Homo sapiens: one gene and its partners. The protein of the gene in region 7 interacts with the protein of the main gene of each other region in a pairwise test. Each region holds a gene or a part of one and is shown on either strand. Other genes may lie near its edges. The genes, in order: NGDN, CDCA7L, HOMER3, GPRASP3, ZNF41, HSF2BP and MFAP1.

The links.
Region 1: the proteins of MFAP1 (region 7) and NGDN interact in binary tests that used the Homo sapiens proteins (3 or more experiments, as listed by UniProt).
Region 2: the proteins of MFAP1 (region 7) and CDCA7L interact in binary tests that used the Homo sapiens proteins (3 or more experiments, as listed by UniProt).
Region 3: the proteins of MFAP1 (region 7) and HOMER3 interact in binary tests that used the Homo sapiens proteins (3 or more experiments, as listed by UniProt).
Region 4: the proteins of MFAP1 (region 7) and GPRASP3 interact in binary tests that used the Homo sapiens proteins (3 or more experiments, as listed by UniProt).
Region 5: the proteins of MFAP1 (region 7) and ZNF41 interact in binary tests that used the Homo sapiens proteins (3 or more experiments, as listed by UniProt).
Region 6: the proteins of MFAP1 (region 7) and HSF2BP interact in binary tests that used the Homo sapiens proteins (3 or more experiments, as listed by UniProt).

Annotation. Positions count from the first base shown.
Region 1 is NC_000014.9:23,472,262-23,476,200, forward strand, and holds part of NGDN (neuroguidin), read left to right. Parts: intron 1-2,909; coding exon 2,910-3,047; intron 3,048-3,296; coding exon 3,297-3,381; intron 3,382-3,464; coding exon 3,465-3,517; intron 3,518-3,767; coding exon 3,768-3,891; intron 3,892-3,939. UniProt on the Homo sapiens protein: Part of the small subunit (SSU) processome, first precursor of the small eukaryotic ribosomal subunit.
Region 2 is NC_000007.14:21,935,182-21,939,635, reverse strand, and holds part of CDCA7L (cell division cycle-associated 7-like protein), read left to right. Parts: intron 1-4,454. UniProt on the Homo sapiens protein: Plays a role in transcriptional regulation as a repressor that inhibits monoamine oxidase A (MAOA) activity and gene expression by binding to the promoter.
Region 3 is NC_000019.10:18,934,659-18,939,112, forward strand, and holds part of HOMER3 (homer protein homolog 3), read right to left. Parts: exon of another isoform or gene 4,392-4,454; 5' UTR 4,325-4,391; coding exon 4,311-4,324; intron 4,227-4,310; coding exon 4,070-4,226; intron 3,827-4,069; coding exon 3,695-3,826; intron 1-3,694. UniProt on the Homo sapiens protein: Postsynaptic density scaffolding protein. Binds and cross-links cytoplasmic regions of GRM1, GRM5, ITPR1, DNM3, RYR1, RYR2, SHANK1 and SHANK3.
Region 4 is NC_000023.11:102,719,205-102,724,235, forward strand, and holds the start of GPRASP3 (G protein-coupled receptor associated sorting protein 3), read left to right. Parts: upstream 1-1,538; 5' UTR 1,539-1,621; intron 1,622-1,752; 5' UTR 1,753-1,887; intron 1,888-2,159; exon of another isoform or gene 2,160-5,031. UniProt on the Homo sapiens protein: Survival and differentiation promoting protein that plays a role in the regulation of neurosynaptogenesis. Induces phosphatase PP2A activity which results in APP dephosphorylation and inhibits BACE1-mediated processing of APP.
Region 5 is NC_000023.11:47,476,416-47,480,869, reverse strand, and holds part of ZNF41 (zinc finger protein 41), read left to right. Parts: intron 1-4,454. UniProt on the Homo sapiens protein: May be involved in transcriptional regulation.
Region 6 is NC_000021.9:43,631,685-43,636,138, forward strand, and holds part of HSF2BP (heat shock factor 2-binding protein), read right to left. Parts: intron 1,738-4,454; coding exon 1,588-1,737; coding exon of another isoform or gene 1,579-1,587; intron 1-1,578. UniProt on the Homo sapiens protein: Meiotic recombination factor component of recombination bridges involved in meiotic double-strand break repair.
Region 7 is NC_000015.10:43,810,552-43,815,005, forward strand, and holds part of MFAP1 (microfibrillar-associated protein 1), read right to left. Parts: coding exon 4,394-4,454; intron 4,138-4,393; coding exon 3,950-4,137; intron 2,807-3,949; coding exon 2,698-2,806; intron 2,597-2,697; coding exon 2,436-2,596; intron 1-2,435. UniProt on the Homo sapiens protein: Involved in pre-mRNA splicing as a component of the spliceosome.

The DNA of each region.
Region 1 (3,939 bases), on a different chromosome or scaffold from region 7:
GTGGCGGATGGATCACCTGAGGTCAGGAGTTCGAGACCAGCCTGGTCAACATGGCAAAACCCCATCTTTACTAAAAATACAAAAATTAGCCGGGCATGGTGGCGTGTGCCTGTCTGTAATCCCGGTTACTCGGGAGGCTGAGGCAGGAGAATTGTTTGAACTCAGGAGGCAGAGGTTGCAGTGAGCCGTGATCATGCCACTGTGCTGCAGCCTGGGCAGCAGAGCAAGACTCCATCTGAAAAAAACAAAACAACAACAATTAAAATATTGTAGTTTTCAAATGAAGGTCTGGTAGAACCTTCTCAGGGATTACTGGTTGGGGGCAATGTGGAAGAACAACTCTGGATCTCTCATCCCTACTTAACTGGAAAACTCTGGTATTATCTGTTTTTATATATTGAGCTTTTGTCCTAAGATATTTAGGCCAAATATTCTATGGGTAAATACAAGTATGAAAATCATTGTAATAAGAGTCACTGAAGGAGTTTTAAGCACAGGAGTTACAGCAGATTTGTGCTTACAGAAAGATAACTAAAAACAGCATTCAAAATATATTCCCTTCTTGTCTTTATCATTCACTTATGTTCTTATTGTCCATTTTTATTTAAAAAAAATTTAAATCTTTGTTTTTCTCTCATATGCTTGTAGCTCAGTTTGAATTTGACAATGCCCAAGCACGTCGGAAGAGCCTGCTTCTCAAATTCTTACCTGTTTTTGTCCTGGGTACCATGCTTTTTTGTTTTGTTTTGTTTCGTTGAGATGGAGTCTCCCTCTGTCGCCCCGGCTGGAGTGCAGTGGCACGATCCTGGCTCACTGCGGCCTCTGCCTCCTGGGTTCAAGTGATTCTCCTGCCTCAGCCTTCCGAGTAGCTGGGATTACAGGCGCCCGCCACCACTCCTGGCTAATTTTGTATTTTTAGTAAAGACGAGGTTTTACCATGTTAGCCAGGCTGGTCTCGAACTCCTGACCTCAGGTGATCCACCCACCTCGGCATCCCAAAGTGCTGGGATTACAGGTGTGAGCCACCACACCAGGCCTTGGGTACCATGCCTTGAACCATTTCAGTGCCTTTTGGAGATGGATGAGTTGCCAGCATCCTTCTTAGATCCCTATATATTTGTTTATTTATTGAACAAATACATATTAACTTATCTTTTTGACCAAAGACTTTTACTAGGTGCTTTATAGGTTACAAAGTTCTTTCACATTATCTTATTTGGGCCTCATAATTATTCTTTGTGGCAGGGAGGAAATGTACATATTTTACTGATAAGACTGAGGTTGGCCTGGTGCAGTGGGTCACGGCTGTAATCCCAGTGCTTTGGGAGGCTGAGGCAGGTGGATCACGAGGTCAGGAGTTCGAGACCAGCCTGGCCAACATGGCGAAACCCCGTCTCTTAAATCTTAAACAAAGATTTAAATTTTTTTTAAATAAAAATGGACAGTAAGAACATAAGTGAATGATAAAGACAAGAAGGGAATATATTTTGAATGCTGTTTTTAGTTATCTTTCTGTAAGCACAAATCTGCTATAACTCCTGTGCTTAAAACTCCTTCAGTGACTCTTATTAACAATGATTTTCATACTTGTATTTACCCATAGAATATTTGGCTTAAATACAAAAAATTAGCCGGGCGTGGTGGGAGGCACCTGTAGTCCCAGCTACTTGGGATGCTGAGGCAGAAGAATCACTTGAACCCAGGAGGTGGAGGTTGCAGTGAGCCGAGACAGTGCCACTGCACTCCAGCCTGGGCGACAGAGTGAGACTCCATCTCAAAAAAAAAAAAAAAAAAAAGACTGAGGTCACAAGGTTAAGTGACTTACTCAATATTTGACTACCAAACACCTAATTCAGAACTTAAACTCAGTTTGTGGACTCTAAATCCTTTGCTCTCCTTCTATACCACAGTAGTGTTGATCTCAAGAGCTTAGCATGTTGGCTTAAAGACATCCAGGGATGAGGTGTTGGAGTCAGATTGAGTTTGAATCTTAGCTCTACTTGTATTACTGTGTTATCTTGGCCAAGTATTTAACCTCTCTGAAATAGGTTTTCTCAGGGCTGTGAAGTTTGGAAGATACATAAAAGCCCAAAGAAAAAAATGAAAAATCAGTATAATCACCACTCTGAGATAACCACTGTGGTAATATTTTTGAGATTTTTAAAATTATAAGAATAATATATGCAACACTTTTTCACACTCTAAAGTACACCATTTCTTCCTTTTCCTCATCTCACCCTAGGGGTAGCAGTTACTTGTGTGTTGTCTTGTAGACATTTTTCTATGTGTATAAAATGTATTCATCATATCCCCCCCTACACACACACACTTTCACAATTGAAGTCATATTACACTTTCTACAACTTGTGGTGACATGGATTTAATTCGATGTCATTATATATAAATCATTGTTTTTACCTGTATCATATAATTCCATTGTATGGGGGGAAATTGGTAATTACTTTGATTAAATTAATTTAAAACTTGGCAGTCTGTGGAGACATTTTTGATTGTTAGAGCTTGGAGGGGCCATCCGTGGGAAGAGGCCAAGGATGCTGCTGGAAACCTACAATGCCCAGGACAGCCCTCAACAAAAAATGTTCTGGCTTCAAATGTCAATAGCTCTGAGATTGAGAAACCCTGTTATAGTCTTTTTTGGGGGGGTAGTTTATTGATTTTCCTCTTCTCATTGTCTTCTATTAATTTTCTGAGCGTTGTTTCTCTTGTATTAGCATAACTTTCTCATTGGCCTTCTTAGGCATAGCTACTTCTTGAGACTATTCCAGATACCTAATATGAACTGATTGGGAAAATCTTGAACTTGGAAAAACATCCCGTTTACCCTAGGCTTTCATCTGGTTCTTTGGCTAAAACCAAATCTGTTTTTCTTTCTGTTTTGTTCAACTCAGGGTCTCAGCTTCTTGGAAGTGAAAGACCAGCTGCTGCTCATGTACCTTATGGATTTGACCCACCTCATTCTGGACAAAGCCTCAGGAGGATCTCTTCAGGGACATGATGCAGTTTTGAGACTGGTGGAGATTCGCACGGTATGAAGCATTTGGCTTCTTGGAGTTTTAGGTTTCTAAATTTTGAGCTCCAAGGGTATCACACAGTAGCTCTCATTTAAGTGAGTCTTCTCATGTTTAAGGAAACCAAATGAGAAAAGGTATTTTTCTATTCATTTGCTCTACTTTGTACATATTTTAGGTGCCTTATGTGGCACCTTAATATAGGGACTCTGGTGTGTGCTTCATTTTGGGAAGGAAATATAATCCTGATTAACTACCATGTTGTAGGTTTTGGAAAAGCTTCGTCCCTTGGACCAAAAGCTGAAGTATCAAATTGACAAGCTGATCAAGACTGCAGTGACAGGCAGCCTTAGTAAGTGAGGAGACCATCATGAAGTTGTGGGGACCATCAGAAAGTTCCAAATTTTGTAAAATTCATTGGGTTATTTATTTCAGGTGAGAATGACCCACTTCGTTTTAAGCCTCATCCCAGCAATATGATGAGCAAGGTAAGGGGTTGTAGTATTCTCCTGATTTTTTTCTGAGGCAGCTATACCTAGATGAGCCTCTTGGTGATCCTGGATACCCTGGGATTCTCTTAGGACTTGATTTTCCAACTTGTGTGTTAGAATGCTGAGTTTGAGATTCCCTTTTTTCCCTTTTTATATTCCCACCACCCCAGGGTACTCCAGCTTTGGGTTTTCTTCTCACTTATCTCATGAATGCTTCCTAAATTTGCAGACATTGTTTCTTTTGTAGTTGAGCTCTGAGGATGAGGAGGAAGATGAAGCAGAAGATGACCAGTCTGAGGCTTCAGGGAAGAAATCTGTGAAGGGAGTGTCTAAGAAATATGTTCCTCCACGCTTGGTTCCAGTACATTATGGTATAAACTTTGGCTGCTGCCTCCTCAGCATGAACTGTTTCTCTTTTC
Region 2 (4,454 bases), on a different chromosome or scaffold from region 7:
AACAGACTTGTCCAATTTGATAATCTTTTAGACTCCAGAGAAATCTTAACATTGGCTTCACATGTTCTATCTGCTGACCTCCCTGGAGGAGGAAATTACTTCACACTTCCCAAGTGATTTGGTTCACTTCACTCCCAGGATCTCTGCCAAAATTCCAGTTCATTAGGTACTCATCTGCTGAATAGCTCTTCTAAGACCTGTGTAAATACATATCTAAAATGACTTCCCATTTATTTCTTCTCTTTTAAACATAACATTGACTACCCTGTGGGGCTTTTTATTGTGGTAAGATATACATAATAAAAGGTACTATTTTTAACCTTTCAGTGTTACTAAGTATAGTCACAATGTTGTGCCGCCATCACTGATCTCTCATGAGCTTTTTCATCATTTTAAACTGAAACTCTCTACCTACTAAACAATTACCCCTATGACCTCTTCCTCCAGCCCCTGGTTACTTCTGTTTTAGTTTCTGTCTCTGAGGATATGACTATCCTAGGTATCTCATATGAGTGGAATCATATGGTATTTGTCCTTTTGTCACTGGCTCATTTCACTTAACATTGTTATTAAAGTTTATCCATGTTATAGTATGTATCAGAATTTTTTTTCAATTATTTCTCTTTTGAGACAGGGTCTCACTCTGTTGCCCAGGCTGGAGTGCAGTGGTGCTATCGTGGCTCACTGCGCCTTGACCTCCTGGGCTCAAGTGATCCTCCCACTGCAACCTCTTGAGTAGCTGGGACTATAGGTATGTACTACCCTGCTTGGCTAATTTTTCTTTTTAAAATTTCTGGTAGAGATGGAGTCTCTGTGTTGCCCAGGTTGGTCTTGAACTCCTGGGCTCAAGCAATCCTCCTGTCTTGGCCTCCCAAAGTGCTGGGATTAGAGGCATAAGACACTGTGCCTGACGTCATTTCTTTTAAAGTCTGAATAATACTCTTATGTGTACATACCATCTTTATTTACTCATCTATTTATGTTGTCGGTTGTTTCCACCTTTTGGCTATTGTAAATACCAATGAATAAACATTGGCATACAAATATCTGCTTCAGTCCCTGCTTTCAGTTGTTCTGGGTGTGTGTTCCTAAAAGTAGAATTGCTGGGTTATATGATAATACTAAATTCAATTTTTTCAGAAACCACTATACTGTTTGGCACAGTGGCTGTGTCATTTTATATCATCATAAGCAGTGCACGAGTGTTCCAATTTCTTCACGTCTTTGCCAGCCCTAGTTCTTTCCTGGATTTTTTTTTAATGGCCATTCTAATGTGCATAAAGTGGTATCTCATCGTGGTTTTGTTTTGCATTTCCCCAATGATTAGTGATGTTAAGAATTTTTTTCTTGTGCCCGTTGGTCACCTGTACCTCTTCTTTGAAGAAATGTTAATTCAAGTCCTTTGCCCATTTCTTAACTGGGTTTTTGTAGTTGTTAAGTGAGTTATTTATATATCTTGGATATTAATCCCTTATTAGATATTATTTGCAAATATTTTCTCTCATTCTATATAGGTTGCCTTTTCACTGTCTTGATAGCGCCCTTTGCACAAAAGTTTTTAATTTTGAGGTCTAGTTTATTTATTTTTCTTTTGTTGCCATATCCAAGAAATTATTGCCAAATTCAGTGTCATGAAACTTTTCCCCTGTATTTTCTTCCATGAGTTTTATAGTTTTAGCTCTTATATTTAGATCTTTGATCCATCTTGAGTTAGTTTTTATAGATGGCTTAAGGTAAGGGTCCAACCTAATCCAATTTTCCCAGCACTGTTTGTTGAAAATACTGTTCTTTGCCATTATTCTTGGCATCCTTGTTGAAAATTAGTTAACTGTATATGCAAGGGTTTGTATCTGGGCTCTTTATTCATTTCCATTGATATATATGTCTGCCTTTATGCCAAGACCACACTGTTTTGATTACTATAGCTTTGTAGTAAGTATTGAAGTCAGGAAATGTGAGTCCTCTAACACTGTTCTTTTTTTTTTTTTTCTTTTTTAAGGGATGGAGTCTTGTTCTGTCACCTAGGCTAGGGTGCAGTGGTGCAATCTCGGCTCACTGTAACCTCTGCCTCCTGGGTTCAAGCAATTCTCCTGCCTCAGCCTCCCGAGTAGCCGGGACTACAGGCACATGCTGCCATGCCTGGCTAATTTTTTTTTGTATTTTAGTAGAGATGGGGTTTCACCATGTTGCCCAGGGTGGTCTGAAACTCCTGAGTTCAGGCAGTCTGCCCACCTCAGCCTCCCAAAGTGCTAGGATTTCAGGTGTGAGCCACTGCGCCTGGTCTGTTCTTCTTTTTTAAGATTGTTTTGGCTATTTAGGGTCCTTTGAGATTCCACATTAATTTTAGGATGGACTTTTGTTTTTACGAAAGAAGTCACTGAGAGTTTGAGAAGGAATACATTGAGTCTGTACATAGCTTCAGTTAGTATTGTCACCTTATATTAAGCCTTCCAATCCATGAACATGGGATGGTTCTCCATTTCCTTGTCTTCCTTGATTTTTTCGGGGATGTAGTTTTCAGTGTACAAGGCTTTTTTCGCCTTTTTGGTTAAACTTATTTCTAAGTACTTTATTATTCTGATGCCATTGTAAATGGAATCGTTTTCTTAATTTTCATAATTGTTCATTGTTAGTGTGTAGAAGCATAGTTGATTTTTGTGTTGATTTTGTGTCCTGCAATGTCTAATTGTTAGCTCTAACTACTTTTTGTGTAATCTCTAGTGTTCTCTACATATATAATCACGTCTCTTATAGCAGAGATAAATTTTGCTTCTTCCTTTCCAATTTGGATGCGTTATTTATTTTTCTTGCCTGATTGGTCTGGCTAGACCTCCCAATACTGCGTTGAATAGAAGTGGTAAAAGCAGGCATATTTGTCTAGCTCCTGATCTTAGGGGAAAAGCTTTCAATCTTCCATTCATCATTGAGTATCTTGTTAGTTGCGGGTTTTTCGTATATAGCCTTATGTTGGTGAGTTTAAGTTTCCTTCTATTTTTTTTTTTTCTGATGAGGGAAGGGTGTTGAATTTTGTCAGATGTTTTTCTGCATCAGTTGAGATGATCTTTGTTTTTCCCCTTTATTCTGTTCATAGGGTGTACTACATTAATTGATTTTTATGTGTTTGAACCATTTTGCATTCCTAGAATAAATGCCACTTGGTGATCTTGTATAATCCTTTTGCTACACTGCCGAATTTGTTTTACCTGCATTTTGTTGAGTATTCTTGTATCAGTATTCGTAAGAGATATGGCTGTATAGTTTTCTAGTATCTTTCTCTGGCTTTGGTATCAGGATAATGCTGGTCACATAGAATGAGTTTCAAGTGTTCCTCCTTCTTCAAGTTTTTGGAAGACTTTGAGAAAGACTGGTGTTTGTTCTTCTTTAAATGTTTGGTAGAATTACCCATGAAGCCATCTTGTCCTGGGGTTTACTTTGTTGGGAGGGTTTTGATTACTACTTAAAATCCTTATTTCAAATATATTCAGATCTTCTGTTTCTTCATAATTTAATCTAGCTAGGTTGTTTGTTTCTCGGGATTTATCCATTATATCTAGATAATCCAATTTGTTGGCATACGGTTGTTTATAGTACTCTTAAAATCCTATTTATTTATTTATTTATTCATTTTGAGACGGAGTCTTGCTCTGTCGCCCAGGCTGGAGTGTAGTGGCACAGTAGCGGCTCACTGCAACCTCCGCCTCCTGGGTTCAAGCAGTTCTCTGTTTCAGCCTCCCAAGTAGCTGGGATTACAGGCGCCCACCACCAAGCCTGGCTAATTTTTTTGCATTTTTAGTAGAGATGGGGTTTCACCATCTTGGCCAGGCTGGTCTTGAACTCCTGACCTTGTGATCCACCCACCTCTGCCTCTCAAAGTGTTGGGATTACAGGCGTGAGCCACAGCGCCTGGCCAGTCCTTTTTATTTATGTAAAATTGGTAGTAATGTCCAATTTCATTACTAACGTTAGTAATTTGAGTTTTCTCTGTATATTTTCTAGTCATGTAGCTTAAGATTTGCCAATTTGTTGATTTTTTTTTTCAAAGAATAAACTTTTGGCTTCATTGATTTTTCTCTTATTCTATTATCTATTCTATTCATATCTGTTTTAATCTTTGTTTCCTTCCTCTTGCTAACTTTGGGTTTGGTGTGCTATACATTTCCTGTTCCCCTAATGTGTATGGTTTGTTTTTTGGTTGGAGATCTTCATTTTTATTGTGTTTACAGCTATAAATTTACCTCTTAGCAGTGCCTTTTGCTGCATCCCATATATTTTGGTAAATTTTGTTTTCATTTACATTTGTTTCAAAGTATTTTCTAATTTCCCTTGTGATGTCTTCTTTGACCCATGGTTGTTTAGGAATATGTTATTTAATTTCCACATATTTGTGAATTTTTCATTTTTCCTTCTGTTACTGATTTCTAGTTTCACTCTACTGTAACAAAGGATAGTATTAT
Region 3 (4,454 bases), on a different chromosome or scaffold from region 7:
TTAGGAAAGGGTCTCACTTTGTCACCCAGGCTGCAGTACAGTGGCATGATCTCGGCTCACTGCAGCCTTGACCTCCCTGGCTCAAGTGACCCTTCCACCTTACCCCTCCACCAAGGAGCTGGGACTACAGGTGTGTGCCATCATGCCCGGCTAATTTTTTCTAGAGACGGGGTCTAGCCATGTTCCCCAGAATGGCCCTTTTCCTGTTTTTTGTTTTTTTTTTTTTTGAGATGGAGTCTTGCTCTGTTGCCCAGGCTGGAGTGCAGTGACATGATCTTGGCTCACGGCAGCCTCTGCTTCAGCCTCATGAGTAGCTGGGATTACAGGCATGCACCAGCATGCCTGGCTAATTTTCATATTTTTAGTAGAGATGTGGTTTTACCATGTTGGCCAGGCTGATCTTAAATTCCCGGCTTGAAGTGATCCGCCTGCCTCAGCCTCCCAAAGTGGTGGGATTACAGGCACAGCACCCAGCCTTTTTTTTTTTTTTTTTTGGGGGGGGACAGAATCTCGCTTTGTCACCCTGGCTGGAGTGCAGTGGCACCATCTCAGCTCACTGCAACCTCTGCCTCCCAGGTTCAAGCGAGTCTTCTGCCTCAACCTCCCGAGTAGCTAGGACTACAGGCCCGTGCCACCACGCCCAGCTAATTTTTGTATTTAGTACAGATGGGGTTTCACCATATTGGCCATGCTGGTCTCGAACTCCTGACCCCGTGATCCACCCACCTCGGCCTCCCAAAGTGTGAGAATGACAGGTATGAGCCAACATGTGGGGTCCCTTTTAATCTTTATCAGGGCTATTTCAACAAAGAGAGCCTCAGGTGGGTGCTAATCTGTCTTTAACACCTGTTATTATTCCTTTATAACAAAGAGATTAGGTCTCAGGCTCTGAGAGACATCAGAAGTCAATGAGAAAGTAATCATCTCATTCTTGTTTTTGTTGTATTAAATGTTTACATGTTTACATTTACCACCTATTTATGACAAAGCAATACCAGTTTTCCAGTTAGGATAGGATATGTTTCCCCCCACCACCCCGGTTTTAAAATAAATTTCCTTAGTTTAAAAATAATTTTTTAGGCCGGGTGCGGTGGCTCACACCTGTAATCCCAGCACTTTGGGAGACCAAGGCGGGCGGATCATTTGAGGTCAGGAGTTCGAAACCAGCCTGGCCAACATGGTGAAACCCCATCTCTACTAAAAACACAAAAATTAGCCAGGCATGGTGGTGGGCGCCTGTAATCCTAGTACTTGGGAGGCTGAGGCAGGAGAATTGCTTGAGCCCAGGAGGTGGAGGTTGCAGTGAGCTGAGATTGTGCCATTGCACTCCAGCCTGGGTGACAGAGCAAAACTCTGTCTCAAAATAAATAGATAAGGCCATGTGTGGTGGCTCACGCTTGTAATCCCAGCACTTTGGGAGGCCGAGGCAGGTGGATCATGAGGTCAGGAGTTCAAGAGCAGGCTGACCAACATGGTGAAACCCCATGTCTACTAAAAATACAAAATCAGCCAGGCATGGTGGCACATGACTGTAATCCCAGCTACTTGGGAGGCTGAGGAAGGAGAATTGCTTGAACCGGGGAGGCGGAAGTTGCGGTGAGCCGAGATCGCACCATTGCACTCCAGCCTGGGGGACAAGAGTGAAACTCTGTCTCAAAAAAATAAATAAATAAATAAATAAATAAATGATTTTTTAGGCTGGGTGCAGTGGCTCACACCTGTAATCCCATCACTTTGGGAGCCTGAGGCAGGCGGATTACCTGAAGTCAGGAGTTTGAGACCAGCCTGGCCAACATAGTGAAACCCTGTCTCTGCTAAGAATACAAAAATTAAAAAAACAAAAATTTTGTAAAAATACAAAAATTAGCCAGGTGTGGTGTGTCTGTAATCCCAACTACTTGGGAAGCTGAGGCAGGAGAATTGCTTGAACCTGGAGAGAAGAGGTTGCAGTGAGCCGAGATCGGGCCACTGCACTCCAGCCTGGCAACAGAGCTAGACTCTGTCTCCAAAAAAAAAAAAAAGACCTAAATTAGAAAGGTAAATTGTTGGGGCCGGGCGCGGTGGCTCACACCTGTAATCCCAGCACTTTGGGAGGCCAAGGTGGGTGGATCACGAGGTCAGGAGATCGAGACCATCCTGGCTAACACGGTGAAACCCCCGTCTCTATTAAAAATACAAAAAAAATTAGCAGGGCGTGGTGGCAGGCGCCTGTAGTCCCAGCTACTAGGGAGGCTGAGGCAGAAGAATCAGAAGAATGGTGTGAACCTGGGAGGCAGAGCTTGCAGTGAGCCAAGATCGCGCCACTGCACTCCAGCCTGTGCGACAGAGCGAGACTCCGTCTCAAAAAAAAAAAAAAAAGTAAATTGTCTGGGTGCAGTGGCTCAAGCCTGTAATCCCAGCACTTTAGGAGGCCAAAGTGAGAGGCTCGCTTGAGGCCAGGAGTCAAGAACAGCCTGGACAACATAGTGAGATCCTATCTCTAAAAAAAATAAGATTAAAGATATTAGCTAGGCATGGTGGCATACGCCTATAGTCTCAGCTAGTCAGGAGGCTGAGGTGGGAGGATCCCTTGTGCCCAGGAGTTTGAGGCTGCAGTGAGCCATGATTGCACTGCTTCACTCCAGCCTGGACAGCAGAGCAAGATCTTGTTAAAAAAAAAAAAAAAAAGAAGGGAGGGAGGGAGGGAAAAAAAAAGAAGAAAGGTAAATTCTAAACCTTCTAGAAGAAAACAAAGAAAGCCTGGTGTGGTAGCTCATGCCTGTAATCCCAGCACTTTGGGAGGCCGAGGCAGGTGGATCATCTGAGGTCAGGAGTTCAAGACCACCCTGGCCAACAAAATCCCATCTCCACTAAAAATACAAAAATTAGCTGGGCGAGGTGGTGGGCACCTGTAATCCCAGCTACTCCAGAGGCTGAGGCAGGAGAATCGCTTGAACCCGGGAGGTGGAGGTTGCAGTGAGCCGAGATCGTGCCACTGCACTCCAGCCTGGGGGACAGAGCAAGGCATTATCTCCAAAAAAAAAAAAAAAAAAAGAAGAAGATCTTCGTGAAAGCACTCATCATCAACAAAACCACGGATAAAGATAATAATGGAAGTATAGAGACGGCACAGGGTGCAGGGAGGTGAGGATGAAGGTATTGCTGGGGCATGTGGGAAAGTGCCCAGCCCAGCCCAGCCACCCATTTGATGTCCCAAAGAGGAGCAGGGTGTGTCCAAAATTAGAGCTACAGGCAGTAGAACTAGGACTCAAGAGCAGGTACAGTGGCTCATGCCTGTAATTGCAGCACTTTGGGAGGCCGAGGCAGGCAGATCATTTCAGGTCAGGAGTTCGAGACCAGCCTGGCCAACATGGTGAAACCCTGTCTCTAATAAAATACAAAAAATTAGCTGGGCGTGGTGGCGGACTCCTGTAGTCCCAGCTACTCAGGAGGCTGAGGCAGGAGAATCGCTTGAACCCGGGAGGCGGAGGTTGCGTGAGCCAAGATCACTGCAGCCTATCTCAAAAAAAAAACAGAAAAATGAACTAGGAATCAAACCGGGGAAGCTTAAAGGGGCTTCAGTCTCAACTCATCCTACAATCCCATCCTGCAGATGGGAAGATAGGGGACCTGCCCAAGATCCCAGAGTGAGCCCAGGAGAAGACTTGGGCCCAGTCTCATCGGTTCCCTCCACTCTCCCCCTCACCCGGCCCACCTGTGTCAGATGCTGTTCAGAGGCAAAGCCCAGGCCGTAGACTGTGTTGGCGCGACTGTCGGCCCACTGCCCGAACTTCTGGGAAGTTTTGGTGAAGGTCATGTTGGGAGTGACAGTGCTGTTGATGATGGCCTAGGGTCGGGGAACAAAGTTCAAGGTAGATGGGACAGATACTAACAAACATGAAACCCCCCAGGTATTACCTTGTATTAGGGTCTTGAAGGTCTTTACTCTGAACCCTTTCAGGAGATAGAGACTAGGGCCTGGGAAGGCTTAGGGTTTCCTGTCCCTTGGGCACACAGCAAGCCAGCCACCAGACCCAAGGTTGTCACCAGGACTCCTGGTGCCTCTGCCCCACCCAGACCCCACCCTGACCTTGGCGCCTCCGATGCTGATGATGCGGTACACATTGCGGGTGGCATCGTAGAAATAGGAGACAGTGAGTGCGTGCTTGCCCGCTGGGATCCAGTTTCGCTTGGTGGCTGGGTCAATTTGGAACACGTGCGCCCGTGTGCTGAAGATTGGCTGCTCCCTGCGTGGGGAGAGGGTGTTTGGTGGGGGCCAGGCACCCCCACTTAGAAAGCTCAGGGCCAGGCTGGGGGAGGTGGGAGCTCACCTGGCTGTGGACATTGGTCAGGCTGGGATGGGCAGGCTCTAGGGGGCAGCCAGAGAGGTGGCAGGAGCACTGGTTTGGCCCCTAGGGAGAGAGGAGGGACTATGAGTGTCCCTCAGGCCAGGCTGAGGGAGGCCAAGCAGGTTC
Region 4 (5,031 bases), on a different chromosome or scaffold from region 7:
AGCACTTTGGGAGGCTGAGGTGGGTGGATCACTTGAGGTCAGGAGTTCGAGACCAGCCTGGCCAACATAGCGAAATGCTGTCTCTAGTAAAAATACAAAAACTTAGCCAGGCATGGTGGTGTGCGCCTGTAATCCCAGCTACTGGGGAGGCTGAGGCAGGAGAGTCGCTTGAGCCTGGGGGGCAGAAGTTGCAGTCAGCTGAGGTCGCACCACTGCACTACAGCCTGGGTGACAGAGCAGAACTCCGTCTCAAAAAAAAAAAAAATTACCAAGGGTGTTAAGTTTAATATTAGTCTGTTCATGGTACAAAAATGGCACCTTTTTCACATAATTATTACCGTAAAAAACATAACATTTCCTTTTGAGGTGACAACAAAGTTCTGGAGCTAGATAGTGGTGATGGTTGTACAACATTGATAATGTACTGGGTTGTATACTTTAAAATGGTTAAAATGTTAAATTTTATGTTATGTGTATTTTGCCACGATAATTTAAAAAATGACCACACAATACCTTCAGTCAGGAGAATTGGAAGACAGGGCTATATGTTGGTTTGGAGAGGAAATTCAGACGTACGAGAAATATCCAATGTTTTATTATTTTTAGACATAACATTTATTTGTCTGAGAATGTTCTAAATTTTCAAAGGTAAAATTACAATTCATGTAAATGTAAAAAGAATATGTGAAAGATTTTTCAACACAATCAACAACTGCTAGGATTAAGAAAACAGTTGAAGGGTATATGTGTATATACAATATACACAATATGAAGATATAAACAAAACATTGAATTTCATAAACACATAGGAAATTAATAAATGTTAGAATAACACTGCCAGGTTAAATATAAAACGGGTTAATATCTTACAGGGCAATAAATTGTAACATTTAAGGTTTTCTATTGCACTGGACATAAATCATTTACATATTTATTGAATAAAATATCTACATGTTAACATCAGTGTCTACAGAGTTGAAAAATAGGTAAATCAATAGACATCCTGCACTGCCCTGAAATGACATCCAGTAACTGAAGGTGACTTTATCTAAGTTTGGTATAATTTTTCTGACAGTGCAACATGCTTTTTTTCCCCACCTGATCCTAGTTTGGTAAGGTAATATGGAAGTGGCAGTTTTGCCTCCCATCGCAAGCCATAAGTTTTAACAGGGATTATCCTGGTGGTGCAAATTGGAGTTTGAATGTTTGTTTTGCTTACCAGCATTTTTCAAGACAGATCTGTGTGTGTTTTAGTATGTCGCTTGAGTCGTATACAAAATATTAAAAATCACTTCATTTCCCAAATCCTCATCGAATGTTCCTCGCCAGCCGAGTGGTCCTCCAGAGCAAAGGCCAGCCTTCCTTCCAGCTGTCTGGCCAAGGAGCTTCAGGATCTTCTAGCAAGCACCCCAGAGGCAGAAGACTGTCATCCATGGTACAGGACTGCGGCGAACAAGCTGACTGCGCAGTCACGTGGGGCTGACGGTGGGTCATGTGACCAGGCTCTGCATTAGGCCTGCCGAGAGGAGTGTTTTCTTGCATCCAGAAAAGACCTGAGAGGCGGACGACACCTGTGCTCCGCAGAGCAGAACGTGGGAGGAACGGCGGGATGTTAAGGTAGGTAGGTGTCTTTCCATGCTGCATCAGCCTGAAAACTAATTTCTCAGGCGACTGGAACTACAGCATTTGTTGGTAAAGGAAACAATCCGTCAGCCAACCGGGAGCGTCTTAGCCCGTCTGTCTTTTGTCCAGGAGCTCAAGAAGCAGAGAGTCTACCTGCCCGACGCGTTCGTGGAGAGGAGCAGCGGTTGCTGTTGGAGGAGGTGGGTGCAAGGACGGCAGATGGCATCCCTGAGAGGTGGTGACTGAGACTAGATGCGGGTGCAGGTAATGCCTCAGATCCGCCTGCTCCCTCCTGCCTTTTGAACACCCTTGACCCCTCATCCCAAGGCTCCCAGCCCAGTGCCCTGTGTTTGTATGTGTGGGTGGGGGAGGTGGGCATATGGATGGAGTTGGCTTCAGGGGAGCCCAGAGCGGGGAAATGGTGAAGTGACAATTCGTGAACACCTGTGGTGCTGGATCAGGAAAGGCAGGGGTGGGGATGGGAACCGTGAGCTATGCGTCCGCACTCATTCTACTCTCTGTCTTCTTACTGGCAGTATTCAGGCAGTGGGGATGGCTGATACCAGCTCAAAACTGGCGGAGGGTGGAGGAGGGCAGAAGAGAACACATACATCTGCCTTTTGCTCCAAGGCTCCAGCTGGCTGGGGATGCAAGAGAGGAATGAACCTCAATCCCGGCAGTTCTAGGAAAAGGAGGAGGAGACATAGACTCGAGGGGAGGAAACCTAGATGCTGTGGGCCCTTCACCTAGGATTTCTCATTAGGATACTCCAAGCTTCTCGACCCCCAAGGGGATTCCTGGATCTCAGCCCCATGCAGCAGGATCTCATTCCCATTGAGGGACACAAAGTGGGTTGCTACTCCGTGTGAGCTCTCTCTCCCTGCTGTCTTGGGCCTCAGAGGAGGGTCTTTCTGGGGACCACCTACAGAAACTGCTTCATGGATAGTCTCCTAAGTTTCCCTCTGCATACCCTTTGCTCTCTTGTGTTGTGATCTCTGCTCATTCCTTAGGATGTGTTTCTTTGGTCCCATCCTAGGTAGCAGCCCCATGGTAAGTCCTTGTCCTCTTTCACATCGAGTATCCTCCTTTCCCCCTACCCCATGCACCCACTGGGTACCAAGTGAAAGAAAATGGTTCCTCTACCCACAATACTTCTGGCACAGAATGTGTGGATTTTTCACACCAAGCAATTCTCTTATTCTTTGAGGACATCAGCTAGGTATTCTACAATTTAATTCAATTCTGATACTACCCAGAGTTAGTGCAGACCTCTCTGGTTAAGGGCTCATTCCCATAAGACTGCCCTCCCTCACTTCAGACAACAGTCACAAGTAATGGATCTCCATGTCACCCACACTTCTGTCTGACTTAGCTACTAGTTGGAAGTTCCCACAACCCCCTCCTCAGGTTCAATAATTTGCTATAAGGGCCCACAGAACTCAGGGAAACACTACTTCCTATTACTGGTTCATTATAAAGGATATAAATCAAAAGCCAGATGAAGAGGTACATATGGCAAGGTCCAGAAGGGTCCCAAATGCAGAAGCTGCCATCCATGTGGATTTGGGGTACACCACCTTCCCAGAATATGAATGAGTTCACCAACCTGGAACCTCTCAGACATTTGGGATTTTTATAGAGGTTTCATTACATAGGCGTGATTGATGAAATCATTGACCATTGGTGATTAGCTCAATCTTCAGCCCCTCTCTTCTCCTTGGAGGTCAAGGGGTGAGGCTGAAAGTTCCAACCCTCTAATCATGCCTTGGTCTTTCTGGTGACCATCCATATCTTGAAGCTATCTAGTGCACCCACCAGTCATCTCGGAACATAAAAAAAGACACCTATCACTCCAGAGATTCCAAGGGTCTTAGTGTCAAGAACTTGAGACTAAAGCCACATGTAACAAAAGATGCTTCCGTTATCCCTATCAGGAAATAGCAAGGGTTCTAGGAGCTCTATGCCAGGAATATGGGACAAAGAATTATGGTTACCAAAGGCTGGAAAGGGTATTGGGGATGGGGTATAAAAAGGAGTTGGTTAATGGGTACAACAATACAGTTAGAAGGAATATGATCTAGTGTTCAGTAGCACAATAGGGTGCCTATAGTTAACAATAGTTATTATATATTTCAGTATAATTAGAAGAATAGATTTGGAATGTCCTCAGTGCAACAAAATGATAAATATTTAAGGTGATGTATATCTCAATTACATTACACATTCTATGCTTATATCAAAATATAATTTATACCCCATAAATATGTACAAATATTGCATATCCATGTGAATTAAAAATTTTAAAAAATTTTAAAAATAACTCATTTCAAATTTCAATCAAAATAAAAAAGATCAAATGCTGATTTCTTCATATATCACAATACATACAAAGTCAGTGTAAGAAAGTGTTGCTAGGAAGAAATGACTTTTTCTAATCCCACTCCTATCCTTATGTTTATACCAAGTTTATAGAGTTGAAACTATGTTGTTCTACTACTTTAAGCCCTCCTATTTAGACTTAAAAGCTAGGATAGATACAAGGTATGTGGGGCAAAATCATAGGTAGAGATTAGTCCCTAGGACTGCATCCTCGTCTCCTACCCTCTCCTATTATTTTCTTCTCTTTACTCTCCAGAATTCTGATAATATAAGTACTGGGGCCAGCATTCAGCTTATGGTTTTCTACTCAAGCTGTCTTGTCTCTTGTCTCTGTGTGTTTTTTCGAGTATGTCAACAGAGAAGACTTCAAGTATGGTGTGGTATAATAGAGAATATAGCTGATCTTTATCCCTAGTTGCTGACACAGCTTCAAAAAATCTTGGAATTTCCTGTGTGACAGGAGTATCTTTGTTATGCTAATGAAGTGACTTATGGTGGGCCCCTAGATAGCTTCAGGATGGGGACTGGTCACCAGAAGGACCAACCATGTGATTAAAGGGTTGGAACTTTGGGCCAGCTCAACCTTCAGGGAAGGTAGTGGGGCTAGGTATTAAGTTCAATCACAACCAATGGTTTAATCAATCTTGCCTATGTAATAAAACCCCAGTGAAAACTTTGAACTTCAGGGATAAGTGGAGCTTCTTGGTTGGTGAACATATTGTTCTCTAGGGAGAGTGGTGTACCCTGACTCCATAAGGAGAGGGTATGGAAGCTTTGTGTCCAGAATGCTTTCAGACCTTGTCCTGTGTATATCCTTAAATGAAACTGTAATAATAAGAATAGCACTTTTCTTGAGTTCTACGAGTTGTTTCAGTTAATTATGAAACCTCATAATGTCATAGGAACTCCTGAATTTATAAGTGGTCAGTCAGAAGCATGGGTGGCTTCCTGAGAATTGGGGCTGGTATCTGATCTAAAGTGGGGGCAGTATTGTTGGTGATTGTGCCCTTAAACCTGTGGAGTCCAATG
Region 5 (4,454 bases), on a different chromosome or scaffold from region 7:
CCAAAATCCTGTTCCACATTGGATTTTTTTTTAATTTACCCCATTCTGAGGGCCAAACACAAGGGTATCTAGTTTGCCTTGATGTGCGTTTTCCTGACAACTAGTGACTGAACATTATTTCATTCTTATTGGCCATTGAAATATATATTTAAACTTTTTCATATCCTTTGCCCTTTTTTTCCTTTAGGTGGTTTGTCTTTCTTACTAATTTGTGAATATTAACCTATATTGTAACTATATTTCCTCTATCTCTATATTTTGACTTTGAAAGGTGTCTTCACATTTGATTTTTAAAAAATCATCTATTAAGATATATCTGCCTTTTTCCTTTACAGGTTCTGAGTGTCTTGTCTTGCCTAGTGACTTCCTCATTTCATGTTCAAACAAATACGCCTTAAATTTATTTTTAATATATTTATTTCAATTTTTTAAAGTTAAATTTTAATCTAACTGGAATTTATTTTGGTGTATGGTATGAGATGGAATCAGTTCGTATATTCCATTTGGATAGCTAATTTTCCAGCACCAGTCGTTAAATGAATACCCTTTTCTAATTCAATTAAATGTCACTTTTGTCACATAAGTTCCCAAATGTGTATTGTTTTATTTCTGAACTCTGTTTAGTTCTTCTGATATATGTATCTACTCCTTTTTAAAAAATCATATTGACTTTAGAAATAGTTTTAACATCATGTAGAACTAGTCCCCCTTGCTTTCTTTTTGGTTGCTTTAATTAATTTTCTTGTGCGTTTATTCTTCTTCTTTTTTTTTTGAGATGGAGTCTTGCTCTGCTGTCACCTAGCCTGGAGTGCAGTGGCGCAATCTTGGCTCACTGCGACCTCCACCTCCCGGGTTCAAACAATTCTCCTGCCTCAGCCTCCCAAGTAGCTGGGACTATAGGCGCGTGCCACCCTGCCCAGCTAATTTTTGTATTTTTAGTAGAGACGAGGTTTCACCATATTGACCAGACTGGTCTCAAACTCCTGACCTCGTGATCTGCGTGCCTCGGCCTCCCAAAGTGCTGGGATTACAGGCATGAGCCACCGCACCCAGCCTTATTCTTCCATGTAAATGTTAAAACTATTTTATCTAGTTTCAAAAATAACCACTAAAACTATAATTTTTATAGTTTTCTTATGGGTCCAACACCTTTTTTTTTTTTTAACAGTTCATCCTTAGATATTTTACCTTTGTTTTTATCATCATTGTGAATAGCATATTTTTTTTCTATTTCCATAGGGAAAATCTATTTTTATAATTTTATTTCATATTCAATCCAATTACCAAATTATCATATGAATGTAGTTGCTTTTTACAGTCTCTTACTTTTCCTAGCTATCGTATTCCATCCAATTAAAAATGATACTGTCTCTTCCTTTCAAATATTTATTCTGATCACCTCATCTTCTGTTGCACTAGTTAGAGCTTTCAGAACAATGTTGAGTGACATTTAATAGAGGGTATTTGCTATCTTGTTGCTAATGTTAATGAAAATAACTTGGGCATTTTTTATTTGAATGTGAAAGGTGTTTATTCATTAATCTATTCAATAAACATTTATTGAATACCTACCCCTTGCCAGACATTGGCTTTGCAACCCTGCTTGGCACTTACTAGCTATGATTTTTTTTTTCTAACAGCTTTATTGTATCATTCATCTACCATAAAATTCACCCATTTAAAGCTTACAGTTCAGCAGTTCTTAGCATATTCACTGAATTGTGCAACCATCATCACAATCTAATTTTAGAGTATTTTATCATCCCAAAAGGAAACATCGTACCCATTAGCAATCATTCCTCATTCCCAACCCTCACCCCTAGCCACAGGCAACCACTAATTTACTTCCTGTCTCTATAGATTGGTCTATTCTAGACATTTTATATAAATGGAATCATAAAACGTGGTCTTTTATGATTGCCTTATTTATTTATTTTAGACAGAGTCTCACTCTGTCGCCCAGGCTGGAGTGCAGTGGCCGGATCTCAGTTCACTGCAGCTGCCGCCTCCTGGGTTCAAGCAATTCTCCCTGCCTCAGCCTCCCAAGTAGCTGCGATTACAGGCGCCTGCCACCACGCCCGGCTAGCTTTTGTATTTTTAGTAGAGACATTGGCCAGGCTGGTCTTGAACTCCTGACCTCAGGTGATCCGCCCACCTCAGCCTCCCAAAGTACTGGGACTACAGGCATGATCCACTGTGTCCGGCCATGATTGTTTTCTTTAACTTAGCCTAATGTTTTCAAAGCTCATCCGTGTTATAGTATGTATTAGGACCTTATTCCTTTTATTATTTTGTTTGTTGTGGTACGAACACTTAACATGAAAGCCACCCTCTTAAATTTGGTTTGTTTGTTTTGTTTTGTTGTGACAGAGTCTCGCTCTGTCACCCAGGCTGGAGTGCAGTGGCATGATCTCGGCTCACTGCAACCTCCACCTCCCAGGTTCAAGCAATTCTCCTGCCTCAGCCTCCCACGTAGCTGGGACTATAGGTGCGTGCCACCACACCTGGCTAATTTTTTGTATTTTTAGTAGAGACAGGATTTCAACATATTGGTCAGGCTGGTCTCGAATTCCTGACCTCAAGTAATCTACCTGCCTCGGCCTCCCAAAGTGCTGGGATTACTGGTGTGAGCCACCGCATGTGGCGTATTCTCTTAAATTTTTAAGTGCACAATACAGTACTGTTAACTATAGGTGCAATATACAGCCAATCTCTAGAACTTCCCTCTTGTATACCTGAAATTTTAACCCGTTGAATAGCAACTTCTTATTACCCCCTCCTCTCAGCCCCTGGCAACCACCATTCTACTATCTGTTTCTATCAGTTTATTTTAGAAGTACTTCATGTCTTTTTATTCCTGAATGATATTTCATTGTATGGATACACCACATTTTGTTTATCCATTCATCAGTCGATGGACATTTGGGTTGTTTCCACTTTTTAGCTATTATGAATAATGCTGCTATGAGCATTTGCGTACAAGTTTTTGTATGGACATATGTTTTCATTTCTCTTGGGTGGATACCCAGGAGTGGAATGACTGGTATAAGGAGTGAGGTAGAAATTTACCTCTTCCCTTTTAGGATTTCTTTTTGTCTGGGCCTGAAAGTTAAATTGACATATGACAGATCAACAGAGAAAAGTGTACAGATTTATTTAATACAAGTTTTATGTGGCACAGGAGCCTTCATAAAGAAATGAAGACCCAAAGTAGTAGTTAGAGTCAATCACTTATATACTGGATTGGACAAAGAATACTTAAGTTGTGAAAAAGCAACTCAGTTATGTGGGGAGGCTTAAAACATAAGAGTTTTAAAAAATTTTTTTGGCTTATTTCTCCAAGAAAAAAAGTTATTTTTCATAAGATCTGTACACAATTCTCTTGCTCTCAATTTCCTGGCCTTGATAGTAAGAATGTGGCATTCCAGCTGGGCACGGTGGCTCACGCCTGTAATCCCAGCACTTTGGGAGGCCGAGGTGGGTGGATCACCTGAGGTCAGGAGTTTGAGACCAGCCTGGCCAACATGGTGAAACACCATCTCTATTAAAAATACAAAAACTAGCTGGGCGTGGCGGCGGGCGCCAGTAATCCCAGCTACTTGGGAGGCTGAGGCAGGAGAATCGCTTGAGCCCGGAAGGCAGAGGTTGCAGTGAGCAGAGATCGTGCCACTGCACTCCAGCCTGGGTGACAGAGCGAGACTCAGTCTCCAAAAAAAGGCCGGGTGCTGTGGCTCACGCCTGTAATCCCAACACTTTGGGAGGCCGAGGCGTGCGGATCATGAGGTCAGGAGATCGAGACCAGCCTGGCCAACATGGTGAAACCCCATCTCTACTAAAAATACAAAAATTAGCTGGGTGTGGTGCGCGTGCCTGTAGTCCCAGCTACTCAGGAGGCTGAGGATTCTTCTGCCTCAGTCTCCCAAGTAGCTAGGATTACAGGCACCCACCACCATGCCCAGCTAATTTTTGTACTTTTAGTAGAGATGGGGTTTCACCATGTTGCCAGGCTGGTCTCGATCTCCTGACCTCAAGCGATCCACCCGCCTCAGCCTCCCAAAGTGCTGGGATTACAGGCATAAGCCACTGCGCCCAGCCTTCTATTTTTAACATTTTGAAGAATTGCCAAACCATTTTCCAAAACGGCTGCACCACTTTATGTCCCAGCAGCAATGTATGAGGGTTCCAGTTTATCACATCCTTGCTAATGCTTATTGTCTTTTTAATTCTATCCTTCCTAGTAGGTGTGAAGTGGTATCTTGTGGTTTTGATTTCCATTTCTCTAGTGGCCACTGATGTTGACCATCTTTTCCTGTACTTATTGCCCATCTGTATATCTTCTTTGAAGAAATATCTATTCAAATCCTTGGCCTATTTTTAAATTGAATTGTCTTTGTATTATCAAGTTGTAAGAGTTCTCTAGATAATCTCGATAGAAGTCCCTTGTCACATATGCG
Region 6 (4,454 bases), on a different chromosome or scaffold from region 7:
CGTTTAAGCTTTACCTCCCCACTACTCTATGACATTAACTCTCCACTGTGTCAACTGACCTACTCACTGTCCTAAAACAAACCCACCCATTTTCTGCCATTTCTACCTATTCATCAAGGCCCATTTCAAATTTATCCCCTTCTGTGAAGTTCCCTGACAAATGCCTGCACGCATGCATACATGTGCGTGTGCACGCTCCCACACACACACATGCTCCCACACACCCACACGCTCCCACACACACGATCCCACATACACAGGCTCACAGGCACACACACTCCCCCCCCACACACGCTCCCCACACACACACTCCCACACACACAGGCTCCCACATACACACACATGCTCCCACACACACACACGCTCCCCCCCCACACACGCTCCCACATACACACGCTCCCACACACACACACGCTCTCCCCACACACACGCTCCCCCAAACACACACACGCTCCCACACACACACTCACACAGTCTCACACACACACGCTCCCCCACACACACACATGCTCCCCCACACAAACACACATACGATCCCACATACACAGGCTCACACACACACACACACACTCCCCCACACACACGCTCCCCCCACACACACACACAGGCTCCCACATACACACACACGCTCCCACACACACACTCCCCCACACACACATGCTCCCATACACACACGCTCCCACACACACACGCTCCCCCCCCACACACACACACTCCCCCACACACACATGCTCCCACACACACACACAGTCACACACACATGCACATGCTCAAACACACATGCTCACACACACACGCTGCCACACACACACACAGTTGAACCTTGAAAACAAGGGTTTGAACTGCACAGGTCCACTTACACAAGAATTTTCTTCAGTAAAAGTTACACCAAGTGTGTCTGCTGCTCCAGCCTCCCCTTCCACCTCCTCCACCTCTACCACCCTTTAGACAGCAATGCCAACCCAACCACTCCTCTTCCTCCTCCTCTTCAGCCTACTCAATTTGAAGATGATGAGGGGGAAGACCTTCATGATGATCTAACATACAAAAAATGTGTTAATCAACGATTTATGTTGTCAGTAAGGCTTCCAGCCAACAGTAGAGAGAGTCAAAAGTTCTATGTGGCTTTTCGACTGTGCAGGGGGTCAGCGCCTCCAACCTCCATGTTGCTCAAGGTTCTGCATCTATATGTATGTGTGTGTGTGTGTATGTATAAACACACACACACATCTACATACATGTATATATGTTAGATAACACAATATTCAATAAATACTATATTAACCATGAGATAATATATATAAAAGCACTTTTGATCTTCTTAAACACATGTAAAGTATTAATACTGAAGTGGTAATATGTCCACATATACCACAAGGTCTCCTGGAGAGAAGGGATCTTATTTCATTCCCTTTGCATCAGGTTACAATGAACCATATACGATAAGTATTCAATAACTAGCTGATGAGTGAACAAAAGAAAATGGAAAGATATGGACTTAGTCTTTAAATGCCTTAATAAGCTATATGCTCTAATTTACACAAGCAGTAATCAACAATATCTGGAGAGCCCACTGACCATACTTACTCCTCCCAAAATGGCCTTGACGACTTCCTCACTGCTGGAGACACCCCACAAGAGGGTACACGCTGCTGCTCCCATTTCTGTACAATACTCTGCCTGCTGCAGGAGTTGCTGCTTCGCTTCATTCAACTGCTGTCGAAGAGCCAGTTTCTCCTAAAAGCAAAACAAAATTGAAAAATAAATAATAGCATTCAACCTTGATATATCTTTATTACATTTCCTCTTTCACAAAGATATTTATTAAAGAAATGCATGTATAATTATAGAAAATAGTTGCAAATGAAAGCTAGTCCTAAGAGAACCATAATCTGTATCTACAAAAGAAATTTCAAAGGCAAAAATATTTGAGAAATATCTGAGGAAAGAACATACTACCACATTATGGTTGATAAACCCACAGAGCTGAATTCATCTGCTTTAAGTAACTACATGAAATATCTCAAGCCCCAAGTAACTATACCCAGAACCAGCACCAACCGAGGCTTCTGAACAAAAACAACCTCACAAAGCAATTTACCCAGAAAGCAACATTTCTAAGACAGGAGACTGCCTCCTCCAAATGGCTCACTCCATTGAAAAAACGCCATCTGCCAGAGGCAGACACCAAATAAAAGGCACTTGGACATCAGGATTTGTAAAAAAACAAGTACTTTAGAAAAACTCATCCTGTATAAACGTATCCTTAACTCCTCATGAGAATATTGCCAAAGGTGCCAGTAAATATAAAATACAATCTGTGAAGCTAAACAGGGAAAGAAAACCTAAAACCTAAGACCAGGTAGGAAAGATGGGAGGAGGGGCAAAAAGAAGTGTGAAGGCTGGGAGTCCTATTCATGCCCTGGTGCAGCAAGCCAGTGCCAGTCTAAGAAGAAGATGGAGGCTAGGAAGAGTTTCCTACTCTCCCACCAGCAGTGTCTGAGGTGACCTGTAGCTGGGCAAGTCTCCACCATGGCACTCTTCACAAGGGAAACACAGGGAATGGCCGTCCTGATGGCCCTCCTGACAACACAAGCACACTTCGAGGATTCACCTTGAGTGTACTGCTAGAGTGATGGGGGGCTTCCTGTCCTCTCCAACCACCAGCACCAGGTACCTGAAATTCCCTTAAAAGGTGATAGCATTTCCTGATTTAATAAGACAAAAACTGAAAAATATAAAACCCCAGTTAAATTCATTTATACCAAATGTAATTAGTTACATAAACCACAAAATTAAAGTATATTAAATGCTGTAGATTTTCTTTTAGAGAGATAAATACAAGACAAAGTAGAGGGGGCTTTTCACCCCCTGGAGGAAAAAGGGAGCTTTGGAGCCACAAATCAAAACTGTTGACCTCATAACTTGGATTAGGGTGGCCCACTCATAGTTACCTGGAGACAATGCGTTTGGCACACAGAGATTCATACACATTCATACGTATATGCACACATGTATTTAAGAAAAAAATGGCCACTGAGCCTCTGGCACATGCTAATACTGCATCATGTGATCTGTCAGCTCCGGGTTTTTAATGTCTTCATTATAGCAACAATCTGGACTCCTAGATTCATCCTTTCAGTGTACGTAGCTGAACACAAGTCATGGTGACACATGAAGAAAACTATGTCACAGCACTTCCTTTTGGAATTCTAGCTTTTCTCACAACTTAAGCTGTCTGCATCTCAATTAGTCAGGATATGGTGGTTCTTCTGCACGACCACAAAAAGACTACTGAGAAGAACCAGGAAGGACTTTGCTCACTACAGTCACATTTGGTAGTTGCAGGAGGATATTCCCCAACGCAGGGTTCCACACATAGTATAATAATATCAAAAAAAAAACAAACAAACCTCAAAGAAAATCATAGCATTCCCAGTAACATCAAAAATAAGAATAATTTTTTAAGGTGCAAGACCTATACAATGAAAACTACAAAGCATTACTGAGAGAAAGTAGAGCTAAATAAAGAGATACACCATGTTCAAAAATTGGCAGGATGTCAATTCTTCCCAAACTGATCTACAGATTCAACACAATCCCTATCAAAATCTCAGCAGACTTCTGTACAAAGTGATAATCTGATTCTAAAATTTCTATGGAAATTCAAGACAGAATATCTAAAAAATTGTCTGAAAAAGAAGAACAATGTTAGAAGACTAACAGTGCCTGATTTAGAGGAAAAAACTAACTATAAACCTACCGAAATAGAACCATTGTGGTATTGCTATAAGGATGGACATATAGATCAGTGAAACACTGACATGTCAACTGATTTTAACAAAGGTGCCAATGCAATTCAATGGAAAAAGGATAGTCTTTTCAACAACTGATGCTAAAACAACCGAATATTCATATGCAAAAAAAAAATAATTCAAAATGAATCATAGGGCCGGGTGCGGTGGCTCACACCTACAATCCTAGCATTCTGGGAGGCTGAGGTGGGTGGATTGCTTGAGGTCAGGAGTTCAAGACTAGCCTGACCAACATGGTAAAACCCCGTCTCTACTAAAAATACAAAAGTTAGTTGAGCATGGTGGCACGGGCCTGTAATCCCACCTATAATCCCACCTACTCGGGAGGCTGAGGCAGGAGAATCGCTTGAACCCAGGAGGGGGCGACTGCAGTGAGCCGAGATCGTGCCACTGCACTCCAGCCTGGGTGACAGAGCGAGACTCCATCTCAAAAAAAAAAAAAAAAAAACAGAATCATAGGCCAGGCACAGTGGCTAATTGTACCTTGGGAGGCTGAGACGGGAGGATCGAGACCATCCTGGGCACCATAGTGAGACCCCATCTCTACAAAAAAAAAAAAAAATTTTTTTTAAATAGCCAGGCATGGTGAGGCTGAAGTAGGATCACTTGAGCCTGGAAGGTCGAAGCTGAAGTGAGCCA
Region 7 (4,454 bases):
AGAGACGGGGTTTCACCGTGTTAGCCAGGATGGTCTCAATCTCCTGACCTCGTGATCCGCCCGCCTTGGCCTTCCAAAGTGTTGGGATTATAGGCGTGAGCCACTGCGCCCAGCCAGATTGCAGTAACTTTTTAGCCAGTGTTGGGGAGAGGGAGTGATATCCCTTGTCTCCAAATAAAATGCATACATACACACAATTTTGTGTACAATTTTATATTTTTTTGAGATGGAATCTTGCTCTGTTGCCCAGGCTGGAGTGCAGTGGCATGATCTTGGCTCACTGCAACCTCTGCCTCCCAGGTTCAAGCTATTCTCCTGCTTCAGCCTCCTGAGTAGCTGGGATTACAGGTGTGTGCCACCATGCCCGACTAATTTTTGTATTTTTAGTACAGACAGGGTTTCACCATGTTGGACAGGCGGGTGTCAAACTCCTGACCTTGTGAGCCGCCCACCTCGGCCTCCCAAATTGTTGGGATTACAGGCGTGAGCCACCACGCCCGGCCTTGTGTACAATTTTAAAGGGCACTTAGACTCCTACTCCTACAGGTCCAGGATAAAAATCTTAGAAACTACAGGCTGAGGGCCAGGCGTGGTGGCTCATGCCTGTAATCCCAGCACTTTGGGAGGCCGAGGTGGGTGGATCACCTGAAGTCAGGAGTTCAAGGCCAGCCTGGCCGACATGGTGAAAACCCACCTCTACTAAAAATACAAAAATTAGCTGGGCGTGGTGGCATATACCTGTAGTCCCAGCTACGCAGGAGGCTGAGGCAGGAGAACCGCTTGACTCCCAGGGGGTGGAGGTTGTAGTGAGCCAAGATTGCGCCACTGCACTCCAGCCTGGGCGACAGAGTGAGACTGTGTCTCAAAAAAAAAAAAAAAACCAAAAACAAAAAATTACAGGCTGAGTATGGAGTTATCTACTGTGTGTAGCTCATACTCAGGCAAGTTTTCTTTTTTTCTTTTTTTTTTTTTTCCAGATAGAGTCTCACTCTGTCACCTAGGCTGGAGTGCAGTGGCACGATCTCAGCTCACCGCAACCTCTGCCTGCCGGGTTCAAGCGATTCTCTTGCCTCCGCCTCCCGAGTAGCTGGGAATAACAGGCACACACCACCACACCCAGCTAATTTTTGTATTTTAGTAGAGATAGGTTTTCACCATGTTGGCCAAGCTGGTCTTGAACTCTCAGCCTGAAGTGATTCGCCTGCCTCAGCCACCCAAAGTGCTGGGATTATGGGTGTGAGCCATCACGCCCAGCCTAGAGTTATCTATTGATGGTTTCCTTTGTAATCTGGGATTACCCTCTCATACCTAGTAATTTACAGGAATGAGTGATGCAGCTCAGAAATGATTCTGCTGGGGCCGGGCATGATGGCTCATGCCATAATCCCAGCACTTTGGGAGGCCGAGTTGGGTGGACAACCTGAGATCATGAGTTCGAGACCAGCCTGACCAACATGGTGAAACCCTGTCTGTACTAAAAATACGAAAATTAGCCAGGCATGGTGGCGCATGCCTGTAATCCCAGCTACTTGGGAGGCTGAGGCAGGAAAATCACTTGAACCTGGCAGGCGGAGGCTGCAGTGAGCTGAGATTGTGACACTTCACTGCAGCCTGGGTGAAAAGTGAAACTTCATGTCAAAAAAAAAAAAAAAAGATTCTGCTCTAACACAGTGTAGATTATTTAAGTGCCACAAATTCTTCCCCTCACAGTATGTATGCCCCTTTTCAAAAAGTATGACTTTGCTGCTCCTCCTCTGCAGAGGTGGAGTCTGTTTCTCCACCTGCTTAAAGCTAGGTTGGCCTTGTGACTTGCTTTGACCAGTATGTGGCAAGATCGATGTATGAGTTCTGGAACCGACATGTCAGAAGACCTTGCCCTCTTAGAATGGTGCCCTGAGACTGCTATGTAAGGAAGCCAGTCTAATCCAGTGAAGGATAAGTGAGGTATCCTAACTGATAGCCACCACCTACTACTAACATGTGAGTGAAGCCCTTTTAAGTTTCCAGCCCAGTCAACCTTCCAGCTGGATGCAACTACATAAGTAAGCCCAGGTGAAATCAGTAGAGGAACTGTTCAGCCAACCTCCAAAGTTGTGAAAAGTAATAAATTATAGTTTCAAGTCACTCAATTGTGGGTTGGGTTGTACACAAGAAGAGATAACTACTAACAGTTACTAATTTTTGTGTCTACTAGGAAACTAAAGGGAGCACTGGCTGGCACTCTATTATGGACACACATCGACAAAGTGTTTTTCTCTTCCCTGATTTCACTGTAGCAAGTGAAACTCATATTCCAATTATAGGAAACTCACAAAGCAACAAGAACTCTGAAGGTGGCTAGAATGGAACTCACAGTAGGTAATGAGTCTCAGAGCTATCCTGCTAGAAACCTGTTCCATTAGCAGCATTAACTCTAGGCTCATCTTTTTACTCACGCTTCTCGATCTTCTCTGTCCCTCTTGATTCTTTTTAGCTCTCGAACTTTCCATGCCTCATATTCCTCCTCATCATTTTCATCATCAGTATTGAGTGCATCCAATGCAGCCAGGGATCGCTTGTTCTCTTCCAGCTCTTTTTTGGTTTCCTCTTCGACAATCTGGATAGGGAGAACAATTCAGCTTGGACTTCCTTACTCTCCTCAGACAAACCTGATTACACTATTTCTTGTACTCATTCCTTGCAACCACTCCCCAGTACCTTGAGTGTGTACTTGCGCCTTTCCTCAGCCATGCGTTTTGCTTCCTGCTCCAGCTCCTTCTGTTTCAATGCTTCGGCTTCACGTTCTTGAACTGTCACTCGGTCCTTCCTGCATCACAGAGATCCTGTTAATTGCCCAAAGTCCTTAGAGTGGAGTGCTTTGTTCCCCTAGACCTAGTCCCATCCAAATCAGACAAAAACCAAACAATCTTTGGCTCTATTATTTTCAAAGAGCAAAAAACGCTGAGTCATCCCAGGTCTTTTTTTTTTTTTTTTTTTTTGAGACGGAGTCTCACTTGTCGCCTAGGCTGCAGTGCAGTGGTGTGATCTTGGCTCACTGCAACCTCCGCCTCCTGGGTTCAAGCAATTCTCTGCCTCAGCCTCCTGAGTAGCTGGGATTACAAGAGTCTGCCACCACACCTGATTAATTTCTTTGTATTTTTAGTAGAGATGGGGTTTCACCATCTTGGCTAGGCTGGTCTTGAACTCCTGACCTCCTGATCCACCTACCTCAGCCTCCCAAAGTGCTGGGATTACAGTCGTGAGCCACCGTGCCCAGCCATCATCCCAGGTCTTTAGAGGACTAAAATCATGTTCATCTTTGAGAACTGCCTAGACAGCAAAGAACCTGCTGGCCTCTAAGCAGTAGGATTTCTAGCCATCAGGAAAGGAATAGGAATTTGCTCGTTGAGTTTAATTTTGTGCTTAAAAATATATGGCCTTGGCTTGGTGCCGTGGCTCATGCCTGTAATCCTAGCACTTTGGGAGGCTGAGGAGGACGGATCACCTGAGGTTGGGAGTTCGAGACCAGCCTGACCAACATGGAAAAACCCCCTCTCTACTAAAAATACAAAATTAGCCAGGCGTGGTGGCGCATGCCTGTAATCCCAGCTACTCGGGAGACAGAGGCAGAACTGCTTGAAACCAGGAGGTGGAGGTTGTGGTGAGCCGAGATCATGCCATTGCACTCCAGCCTGGGCAACAAGAGCGAAACTCTGTCTCAAACAAACAAAAAAAGGCCTTGGACAGATATATGCTCTATTACTGAAAAAAGAGATGTGAAAACAAACTCAGGTTCTCTGCTAACGCCAAGATATTCCTCAGCAGCTAGTCTGCCAAGGGTAGAGCACTAGCAAAAGCACTTTCACTCAGCGTTTAGATTTCAGAATAGCAAGACAGAAAACAGACTTTTGTCTCCAGGCCTGGAAAGTGGTAATTAAGTGGATTCAGATCTGGCTTGTGAGATACTTACTTTCGAATGAAGACTGGCTTAAGGCGAGGCTCCATCTCATCTTCACTGTCTGTGTACTCTTCATACTCAGACTCTGATTCTGACTCCTCTCCAGAACGACCCTCATCTTCCACTTCCATGACTTCCATCTCTTCATTTTTTCTCTCCTGTGCTCGCTGACGCATCATGCCACGCCGCCGCTCTATTTCCTATCAAGTCATATATATAAGCCAGTCAGTCAAATGGCCTATGGCTTTTTGTTCGTCTCATCAAACACAACAAATTCAAATGTAAAAAGATACAACTTAGTATCATTCTATTTTTAATCCTATCCCCACAAACAAGGAACATGATCAGAGTCCTGCCAAAGCAGTGATCTCATGTTTTTAAGGCTTCAACAAATGAGCACTGGCATGAACTTTTTCTTATATCCAGAAAAAAACTTCCCATGTTCCTTTATCATACCTCATCATCAATTTCCTCCTCCTCTTCTTCACTGCTGTCTTCTCGTTCCATGCGCCAAGCA